2 separate regions of the Homo sapiens genome follow, and region 1 is linked to region 2. The links come from fine-mapping of genetic effects on gene expression. Tissue or cell type: whole blood. Region 2 holds a variant in brackets; the other region holds the start of a gene. All regions are shown on one strand. Distances are from middle to middle. Region 1 holds the start of NAMPT (nicotinamide phosphoribosyltransferase). Region 2 overlaps NAMPT (nicotinamide phosphoribosyltransferase).

The links.
Region 1: it holds the start of NAMPT, and the variant in region 2 is fine-mapped to the expression of NAMPT in whole blood (TOPMed, PIP above 0.99).

The regions. Positions count from the first base shown.
Region 1 is chr7:106,282,512-106,287,898 of GRCh38, forward strand. It overlaps NAMPT (nicotinamide phosphoribosyltransferase), which reads right to left and starts at 2,472. Exons shown (of 11, transcript NM_005746.3): 1 at 2,317-2,472. The coding sequence starts at 2,373. It overlaps NAMPT-AS1 (NAMPT antisense RNA 1), which reads left to right and starts at 2,735. Exons shown (of 1, transcript NR_186647.1): 1 at 2,735-3,815. RefSeq lists silencers at 1,802-2,161, 2,432-2,971.
Region 2 is chr7:106,260,139-106,265,525 of GRCh38, forward strand. It overlaps NAMPT (nicotinamide phosphoribosyltransferase), which reads right to left. Exons shown (of 11, transcript NM_005746.3): 7 at 3,254-3,479; 8 at 1,450-1,569. Among named protein-coding and RNA genes, the nearest start is that of NAMPT, 22 kb to the right of the region's middle. RefSeq lists enhancers at 1-388, 389-913. The variant T/C (reference allele first, on the strand shown) is at 3,320.

The DNA.
Region 1 (5,387 bases), 22 kb after region 2:
AGAACCACGATGAAAATAGAGGAACCACAGTCGTCAGTGTCCTTAATTCCTTACTATATACAATAAAGTATGAGTTTACAGAAGTGAATGTATATACTTCAAATGCTCCTTTGGTCCAAATAGTTCTGGACTCTCTTGACAGGATACAAGACAAAACAAAACTCCCATTGTCATGTGCTTGCTACCATACCATCTACTTGCAAAATAACTTTCGTAGTGCTTAGGCAATCAATTATTCTTTCTTCAGTTTTAGAAAGAAGAAATCAACAATATTTTGCTCTCTTCATCAACACATCTGAAACTACTAGAGTTCCCAACTTTGGCCAATAGTTTGTAAGCACTGATAAGGATATGTAACATTCTCGTGTAATTTCTAAATAAGTTTCATTACTTCTAACCTCAAGATTATCATTTTTGTCCTTTTTCCTAAGATAAAAAGACAAAAATGTAAAATAGGTTATAAGGACCCCTAAAAACATAAGGGAAATGAAACCTAAGACTTAAATGTGACTGTGGAATACACAATCTATTTTAGCATACTGCGGTAAGCCACTGGTATAAAACATATCGACTTGATTGAACCCTCTAGAGGTGACTTTTGGGGAAAAAATGAAAAATCTAAGATGAAAATATTCTGAAGTTTCATATTATAAAGGATATAAAACACACCAGTCTGACTTGAAAGTTGACAGAAGTAAAATTTATTAAATAGGTGCAAATTCTAATAGTGCAATTAAGTATGGCTCACTAGATTAGAAACCTTTAAGATAATTCACTATTCTAACTAAAAGCACCCCAGAAAACTGATGTTAAAGTAATTTTACATTCCTTATGTATAATGGTTAGAGGAACTGCAAACTAAAGGAAGTTGCATTCTTCTGTTTTTAAAATTTAGACTATTCAACCTCCCTTTACATTTGGCTAACATGTAAAAAAAAAATCTGACAGTTATTTTAGATTTAGTTAAGAAAAAAATTCTACAAAACTATCAATGAGGCTATTCTAAAATCACTATTTAAAATTTTGAAAACACTATGATTGAACCAAGAGAACACAAGAGGAGGTTTTAGGACCAAGTAAAGGACCATACTTGAGGTATTATCACGTATACTTGACAATATTCAAGAATCATACTTGATAGTGTTCGGATTTTGCAATACTTTAAACTTGCATCTAAAAGACAACTTGTTGATGGATCTTGGCTCGATTTCAAGAACCTATCTAAATATCATAAACAGCATTTTAAGCTGATTGGAAAAAAACAGACAAAACTTAAGTAAAATGGAATTCTCTAAAATACTTTCTCGGAATATCGGAGGAGGGCTAAAAACAAAGGAAAAAAAAAGAATCAAAACAAAAACATGAGAGTACTATGTTTTACCACTGTATTCCAAACCACTATGCTGCTCAAGTAAAATTTACTTTACCTCTTCCCTTCACTACTGCGTGCTTCATATCAACTGAATGTGGCAGCTACCCACACAAGTGTTCAATGGGCATGTGAACGCAACGCTGTGCCATTTCCCTCTCCACATGTTCTCTAGGGTTAAAACTACAGTTCCTTTAAATCCTCGTGTTTCATTTTCCTTTTCACAGAAATCCTGTAATGACCCTAAAGCAGATAAGAGCAGAGCGGCCTCTACACCCAGGGATAAGGAGCACGAGCAATCACTAGGTGCCAAGGAGTTTGAAACGGAGCCCGGCGGAGTGGGACAGGGGAATCCACTACGGCTACCGGGGCCAGGCGAGTGTCCTCCGCGCCGGAGCCGCAGAGGACCGCGGCTGCTCCGGCGCCCGCGCCAGGACTTCTCCCACCTCGCGCCCCGGGAGACTTACCTGCCCAGCCAGGGGCGAGCGCGCCGGGCTGGCCCGGGGGAAAGCCCCGCTCACTCTCCACTGCGGGTCCCCGGGGCCGTTACCTAACTGGTCCCAGCTCCAGGCCAAGAGGCCGCGCTTCAGGGAAGGGCATGCGCTCGCCGGCGACGCCCAAGCCCCGAGCCCCGAGCCCCGAGCACCGGCGCCCGGGAGTCCGCTGGGGCCCGCCTCAGCCCCCCGCCGCGCCGCCGCCGCCGCGCGCCCCCAGGCCCCGCCTCCACCGCCCAGCCCTCCATCCTCCTCAAGCCACCTCCTGCCCACTGCGGCGCCTCCTCACCTGCCCCAGCCGCCGCCGCCCGCGCCTCCCCCGGGCCTCCCCGCGCCGCGACCCTAGCCCCAGCCCCAGCCCCAACCCCAGCCCCAGCCGCCCCCGCCCCCCTGCCGCGCGCTCGTCCCCAGCGCGCCCCGCTCCTCCTCATCTGCCCGGGCCCCGAGCTTTACCTTGTAGGAGTCGGTGGCCAGGAGGATGTTGAACTCGGCTTCTGCCGCAGGATTCATCTCGGGCCGGAGGACAGGGGCCGCGCGCCGCGAGCTCCCTGGCGCGGCTGCGAGGAAGGAGAAAAATGAGCTTCACCGCGCTCCGTTGCTTAAGTCACTGCTCGGTCGGCGGAGGAGGGGGAGAGGGGGAAACGGAGAGAGGGGAGGGGTCAGAGGAGGGCGGGCCCGGGAGCCGTGACGCGGCGCGGGTGACGGCTGCGGCGGCTCGCGTGCTCGCAGTCTGGGAGCTCTGGCGGACTCCCCACCTCGGTTCCCCCGCCTTCACCCCGTCACCCTCCGGGGGCCGAGAAAGGGCGGGGCGCGGCAGCGCGCTGCGCAGTGCGCGGAGGCGGGGCGGGGAGGAGGACGTGATGCACGCGCTCTTCCTCCCAGACGCCAGCTCTGGGAAGCTGGAGGCAGCGGGGCAGCCCCGGCGCGTGACCCGGGCGCTTACCTAAGTTCGAGTTCCCGGCACGGGCGCGGGAGGGCGGGGCCTGGAGGGGGCGTTCCCAGCTTTGCCAGTGCCACGAGGAGCCGGTTCGCCCGCCCCGCCTGGGACCTTCCGTCCTACCCAGTCCTGGCCGGTTTTCTGGGTCCTCCTGAAGTCACGCCACCCGGCTAGGGGGCGAGGAGCCTCCTACTGCCCATCTTCCCGTCCACCACGCGCAGTTACTCACCTTTGTCTCCGGCCTGGATTAAGGATCCAGCCTTTCGCCTCCATCCCTCTTGTCCCTCCTGATCCTCCTGACCCTGTCTTTAAGATCCCAGGAGCTGCGGTGAGGAGTGAGGCTGAGGGGCCCCTTTCATCTGATGCAGCGACTCCGCTTTCCTCCGGCGGCTCTGTCTATGGCTGAGCTCTTTGATCCTTTGAGAGATGGTTTGACTTTTCCCGAGCAAAGAGCCTGCGTTGAAAAGCGGGGGTGGAATTCAGTCCTCACAGATAATGAGGGGACAAGACCTAATTGAACCGAGTATTGCCGGGAAGGAAAAGGCAACGGGCCAAGCCTTTGACAGGGTGCGACACTGACTTTTATCATCGTTATAGTCTTTAAATCCTGGGAAACGAGTTGGCAACCCCAAAATAAAGAAGTGTAATGACGTCTGATGACTTCACCCAAATACAGACCATTCCAAGAAAGACTTGCGCAGTTCTCATGCGTGGTTGCGTTTTTGCATAAAACTAAGATTCCCTTTGTCCGCATGTTTAATAGCTTAAAAATAAATTGAGGTTTTTATCGGATAAAAGTAGCCAGGAAAAAGTGATACAGTGAAAACGATTACAGGATATTTATAGACTTGTCTTTCAAGTTATTAGAAGTCTCATTCTATCTGGGGGCAGTGATGGTGGTGGTGGTAGTGGAACTTGTGAATTGAGATTCATAGTGGAACTTGTGAATTGAGATTCATCTCGAAACTGGAGGCATGGCTGAGACTTCTAATAAAGACAACCTCAGTCAACACTATGTCTTGAAGTCAGTATATATTTTTGACAATCACCTCATCTACACGTAGATACAATACAGGGCAAAGATCATGGAAGTGGAAGGTATCACCAGGCACTCACCAATGTAGTAAATACTAGTACACTTACAATTATTTTCAGCAACGAGGTTTGAAACAAGAGGGCTTATGTATTTATTGGTTGATCTTCCCTGTGTTTTACCGGGGAAAATTATTTGTAAACGCATTTAAACAAATTATTATTTCTATTTTGAGACGGAGTCTCGCTCTGTCGCCCAGGCTGGAGTGCAGTGGCTGGATCTCGGCTCACTGCAAGCTCCGCCTCCCTGGTTCACGCCATCCTCCTGCCTCAGTCTCCCAAGCAGCTGGGACTACAGGCGCCCGCCACCACGCCCGGCTAATTTTTTGTATTTTTAGTAGAGATGGGGTTTCACCGTCTTAGCCAGGATGGTCTCGATCTCCTGACCTCGTGATCCTCCCGCCTCGGCCTCCCAAAGTGCTGGGATTACAGACGTGAGCCACCGCGCCCGGCCTAAACAAATTATTTTTTAATATTTGATTTTGGGAGTTTTTTTATATTATTTCAAGGAGTGCAATTCAAAGAAGGAAAAAGATAATTTTTGTCCTTAATTTGGTGTTTTTTCCTTCATTTAAAATTTATATAACCTACTTTACTTATAGTACAAATTCTTATTTGTTTAGCTTCCTGGAATTCATGTATCTATAAATGACCGTTGTTCTATGCTGCTTTATGCAGAAAAGAAAGTAGGATTCTGATTATAATGTGGGCTTTGTTTATGGTAGTATTTTTTTAAGATGCAAAATTTGATCTTGCAATCTTTGAGTTGAATTTGCAGTTTTAAAATAAAAAGGTCTTATATCTGTGCAAAGAAAAAATATTGTATTGACATTGCTTGTTAAATTAAGGAGTGAGGCCTGCACAAGTATTAGTAATGTGAATCCTCACAGTAGTCTCCAGAGAAAAAAAATGACAATGAAGTCATGTTACCAATAGGACAATCACCATTTGCCTGAGATAGAAATAGGCACATTCTCTATGTAACTACATGCTTAAGCTGGAGCAATTCAGAATTAATTGGGGTTTAGAACTATGAAATTATCACTGAAAACAGAGCCAAGATTTCATTTTAAAATGGCCTCCCCTGAAAGACAGTTTAACAGCTAGCATTAAGGTTGGACGTGGTGGCTCACACCTGTAATCCCAGCACTTTGGGAGGCTGAGGCGGGCTGATCACTTGAGCCCAGGATTTTGAGACCAGCCTGGGCAACATGGTGAAAACCCATCTCTACAAAAAATACAAAAATTAGCTGGACGTGGTGGCATGTGCCTGTAGTCCCAGCTTCTCTGAAAGGAGACTGACGTGGGAGGATTGCCTGAGCCCGGGGAGGTTGTAGCATGTAGAGGACCTGAGAAACTGTTTTTCATAGGTCACAACAACATGACAAATAATAACACATAGACTCAAATGGGCCCCCTCACTTGATTCAAAGCCCTGGATTATTATACCATCCTACCAAATAGCAATCAGGCACTGCCAATTGGGCATGCAGCT
Region 2 (5,387 bases):
CTCTAGTTATGAAAGTCCTAGACGGCACCTTCTTCCAATGGAAGGCTGTTTCCTCTACACTGACAATCTGTTTAGTCACCTGCATCAATGATCTTAGCTAGATCTTCTGGGTAACTTGCAGCAGCTTCTACATCAGCACTTGCTGCTTCATTCTGCACTCATGGAGATGGCTTCTTTCCCTAAACCACAGGAACCAACCTCTGCTAGCTTCCAATTTTTCTTCTGCAGCTTCATCACCTCTCTTAGGCTTCACAGAATTGAAACGAGGGCCTTGCTCTGGATTAGGCTTTAGCCTAAGGAAATGTTGTGGTTGCTTTGATCTTCTATTCAGACCATTCAAACTTTCTCCCTAGCAGCAATAAAGCTGTTTCACTTTCTTATTCATATGCTTAGTGGAGTAGCACTTTGATTTTTCTTCAAGAACTTTTCCTTTGCATTCACAACTTGGCCTACTGTTTGCCTTAAGAGGCCTATTTTAGCTTTCAGCATGCCTTCCTCACTAAACTTAATCATGTCTAGGTTTTGATTTAAAATGAGAGGGATGTGACTTTTCCATTCACTTGAATACTCAGAGGCCACTGTGGGGTTATTAATTGACCTAATTTAAATACTGTTGTGTCTCAGGGCATAGGGAAACTTGAAGTGAGCAGAGAAAGGGAATGGGTAACTGGTGAAGGAGTCACAACACACACAGTATTTATCAATTAAGTTCACTGCCTTATCTGGGTGTGCCCTGTGGTGCCCTAAAACAATCACAGTAGTAACATCGAAGATCACTAATCACAGATCACCATAACAGATATAATGACAAAGTCTGAAATATTGTGAGAATTTACCAGTATGTGTCACACAGACATGAAGTGAATACATGTTGGAAAAATAGCACCAACAGACTTGCTCAACACAGGGTGGCCACAACCTTCAATTTGTAAAAAAATGCAATGTTTGCAAAGCACAATAAAATGAGGTACGCCTGCATAACACTTATACTATCTGGCTAAATCTAATACTGATGACAGTCAATGCTTAATTTAGAAGAGGTGGCAGCTATTCTATAATTTCTGAAAAAGCACCCATTAATATTATGAGTTTTACAGATTTGTGAAGCTCCAGTCTATGAAAACTCAGACCTATGCCAGCAGAGTCAAGGCTTTGTTTTATATTCCAAGGAATATTTCTTGACTGACATTTCCTTGTTTCACAATGATACTTCTTTAGATTCATCATTCAGGGTGGCCAATGACAACTGGAAGAGTAAGTATGGCTTGGCTGGCACCTCTGTATTTTAAACTACTATTATTTCTAAACTTTAAGCAATGCACAGAGATTTATACCAACATAAACACTTACAAAGACTTAAAATTGTATTTATATTGTGTTCTTTATCAAACATAAACAAACTTAATTATAAGAAATGCCTTATTGAAACTTTTAATATAAAACACATACCTCTTGTAAGGTATTAATATCTACTCCATCCCCTTGAATAACTCTAAGATAAGGTGGCAGCAACTTGTAACCCTTTGAGTTCTCAGTAACAGGAAACTTCTTACCTAAAATCTCCAAAACCTATATGGAAAAATACACATGCAACACAAATAACTAAAGCTGAAAACAAGTATAAGAGCTTTTCAAAGTTAAATGATTTTGCTTTGATAATCGAGAATATAAAAATTAACTACTTTAAAAATTTTATAACACTATGTATATGCTCTCTAAAATTTGGTCCAGTGTACTTTAAAGGGTTAAAGTACATTAAAAACAAGCATGTTATTTCCTATGAAGTGAATTCACATCATAAAGTGGCTCAAAACAAGTTTTTCCCCTTAGACCTTTCAAATTATATGGATTCAAGGAAAAAAAAATCCTTAATATTAAATAAGTATATTTTAAAGAAGTATATAAAGCATTATTTAACAAACTCATGATTATACTTTTAATTTGGACTTATTCTGCTTGTGCCCAATGACTTTGGTTTTTGTCTGATATATAACTCCAATATGAATCCAGTTCAATCACAAAGTTCAGAGAAACTGTGAAAGGCAGACACAGCATCTAGAACCCATAGTCTCTAAGTTCTCCTTTGCTCTTAAAGCCAAACTGCACAATACACAAATCATCTTACTCATTCACTAACTACTAAAAGTTTTGTACACCAAATTAAAATTTCTCAGAAAGCTTGGTCATATAAACAAAAGAAATACATTCTCTTCCCACAACAATCATTTCTTTTTCCTAAATAAACTGATTAAAGATTCTAACAAAGAGAAAATTCCCCATTGATGAAATCAGTTTCTCATAACTAGCTGTGTACATTTTTTATTACGTAACAGTAAAAACATGAAACCTATCAAGTTTGCTAAAACCAAATATTGCAGGCTAAGACAAGACTTTCAGATTGGCCTATCATTTAATAGAATAAGAAAAGACCTCCTTAATTCTGTTTCCCTTTCTTAAGGGGTAAGTATCATCTGCTCATTAACTGACAAATGGTGTGGTCAAGTAGCAAGGCTGCAGCCAAAAGACCTACACTGGATATCTGACTCCTTATCTTTCATGTTGTGTGACCTTGAGCAAGTTACTTTAACCTTTTTAAGCCTCTGTTTTTTTCTTCTATAACAGAGACAGTAATATTTATCACTGTTTTTTTTTGTAGAGATTAAATGGCGTATCTTATGTAAATCACCTAAAATATTTTTCTAGTAGTAGGCATCAAATAAGCCTGCTATTACTACTTTTTGAAGAAGATAAACCAAGTCCTTGAACATTAACAACAAAAAGTAACACTGCTACATTATGAATCAACAGTATTTCTAAAGAACCTCCACTTGAAGAGTATTTTTGAATTATTTTTATTCCACATCACCCTGTTCCTATTTCTTCTGTGCTAACAACTTCAAAGGTCTAGCAGTGACTTATGCTGAAAAAGAAACAAACTGCAAATAAGTTTGGTGCCCAAATCATAGGATTAATTAAAATGGCAATGCTGTTAATTAATTTTGCAGGTAAGCAGAAAACAAAATATCTATTCAAATGTCTAATTGACAGTAAAACAATCCATAAGTCTTGGTATCCTTCTGTGCTATTACTGTGTGACCTCAGGCAAATCTATTACTCTCTCTGGGCTGCAACTCTAAAATAAAGGGGACTGGTCCACACAGCTCTGAAATTGTGTGTATATAAATGAAAAGTAGTATTGATGCAGCTGGCCTACAGAGGGATTCTAATAATAAAGTTACATATGAAAATTTACCTTTAACACAGTGTCAAGAGGGTTTCCAGAATCAGGTCTGATTATTAGTGGTGCCTGTGTACTTCT[T/C]GATACTATTAAATGTCTTAGATCTTCACCCCATATTTTCTCACACGCATTATAAATGTCATAGCTATCGCTGACCACAGATACAGGCACTGATGAAAACTGTGTTACAATATGTTCAAAAGCATCTTTTTCATGGTCTTTCCCCCAAGCTGTTATGGTACTAGAAAAAAAAATGAAAACACAGATTTACTTAGGCAGACACTTGATCTATCCCTGAATCACCTTTAATCATATCTCATGTTTACTATACCAAACCATCAACATCACAGAGAAGGTGAGTGACTTAGTTTAATGAATATACATCGTAAGGCAAATGAAGTAGCTGGGTCAACCATACCTTACCCAATTAGTTTTTAACGCTTTAAGTAGCCTTACTCCTCTTCAATGGTTAAGTTTCTAACCTCGTATTTTCAACCAATTATCTGTGTGTGTGTGTGTTTTCTGGTATTCCTGAATCTACTCATTTAAAATCAGTCTAACTAAAAAGCACTTGCTGAGTGCCCTTTATACTGTATGTCAAGATGTTAGAATGAATACATATTTCCATTATTTTGTTAGGCAATGAGAGCACCTGGCTCCCTTCTGTGAATTTTTGAAACTATATACCAATAATAGTACAGACATACATTTTGTTTTTTTACCTTTCAAAATCTTATACTTAGAGGCAATTATTTATACTATACCATACATACATATAGTCAACTACCTGTTATATTTTCAAGTGGCTAGTAATAGGAAGTCATGTATTTTGTTTGCAGATTATCTACTACGAATTAATATATGCCCAGGGAATAAGAATTCAAATACTTAGTTTAAGCAAAACATAATTAAGATGGAAAATAAAGTATGAGAGTTTCTATTGGATAAGAATGGTTATAGTGATTTTTGCAATGTCCTTAATATCAGTTCTTACGGGATAGATTTGTATTCAATATGTAATTATAGATTGGGTATCGCTTATTTGAAATGCTTGGGACCAGAAGTATTCTGAATTTCAAATTTTTTCAGATTTTGGAATATGTGCATTATACTTATCAGTTAAGCATCCCCAGTTCTGAAATCTGAAATCCAGTTCTGAAATCTGAAATGCTCCAATGAGCATTTCCTTTGAGCAAAAAGTTTCAGATTTTGGAGCATTTTGGATTTGGGATGCTCAACCTGTGTAAATATTTGTTAATATATAATGTAAATAATTTTAAAAGATCTCAAACAACTTAATTTTGAAAATTACCATTTAATTATGCCAAGCAATTGGTCATTCTCCCTAATTTTCTAGTCCGCCTCTAATCTGTTCTCCTCAGTAAATAATAAAAAGATAGCACATTCATTTATTATAAAGCCCAAGTAGGTATAAGTTTAACTCATAACTGTTTGAAGAGTCAGACTTTATGTCTGAAATAATCACTTTATACAATGTGTGTGTGTGTTTTTTTTTTTAAAGGACTAGACTTAGAACCTTTCCCCATACTGTCAATGGTATACCTGGGGTAGTGCAGCATGCACATTTCAAGATTGTAAAGACTACTACCCGAATCCAAAATTGAGAGAGAACCTGTTTATATAAAACTCATTAGTGAACACTCTTCTTAACAGCTACAGAGGCTGCCAGTAGCTATGATGTCAATTCTCTACTTCATGCATCTGTAGGCTAAATGGAAAATTAAGATATGACTGAAGAGAAGCTCCTCTTCATATTCAGGTCTGCAACTTTTCTCTTTAAAAAGGAGAGAATTAAGATCAATGAATACCAATACTGGAGAACTTTACAACGTATGAATTAACTCCTACAGTTAAGGGGTCACTACTTATAACGTTGTATCAGTAAGTCACCTAACGATCTACTTGTATCATGTCTAGCAAACTTCACTGTCCCCATCTTACTTGCTTTCTCCATGACACCTGAATTTTCCTGATGCTTTCTTTCTCTTGACTTCAATGACATCTCCCATGTTTCACCTTTTTTCCCCTATTTCTATGGTTCCCTTTTCAGTCTTCCCAGATGCTGTGCTCTCCTTCTTTAATCTAACCTGTCAGATGGCAATATTTCTCATAGTTCTGACTTAGGCAC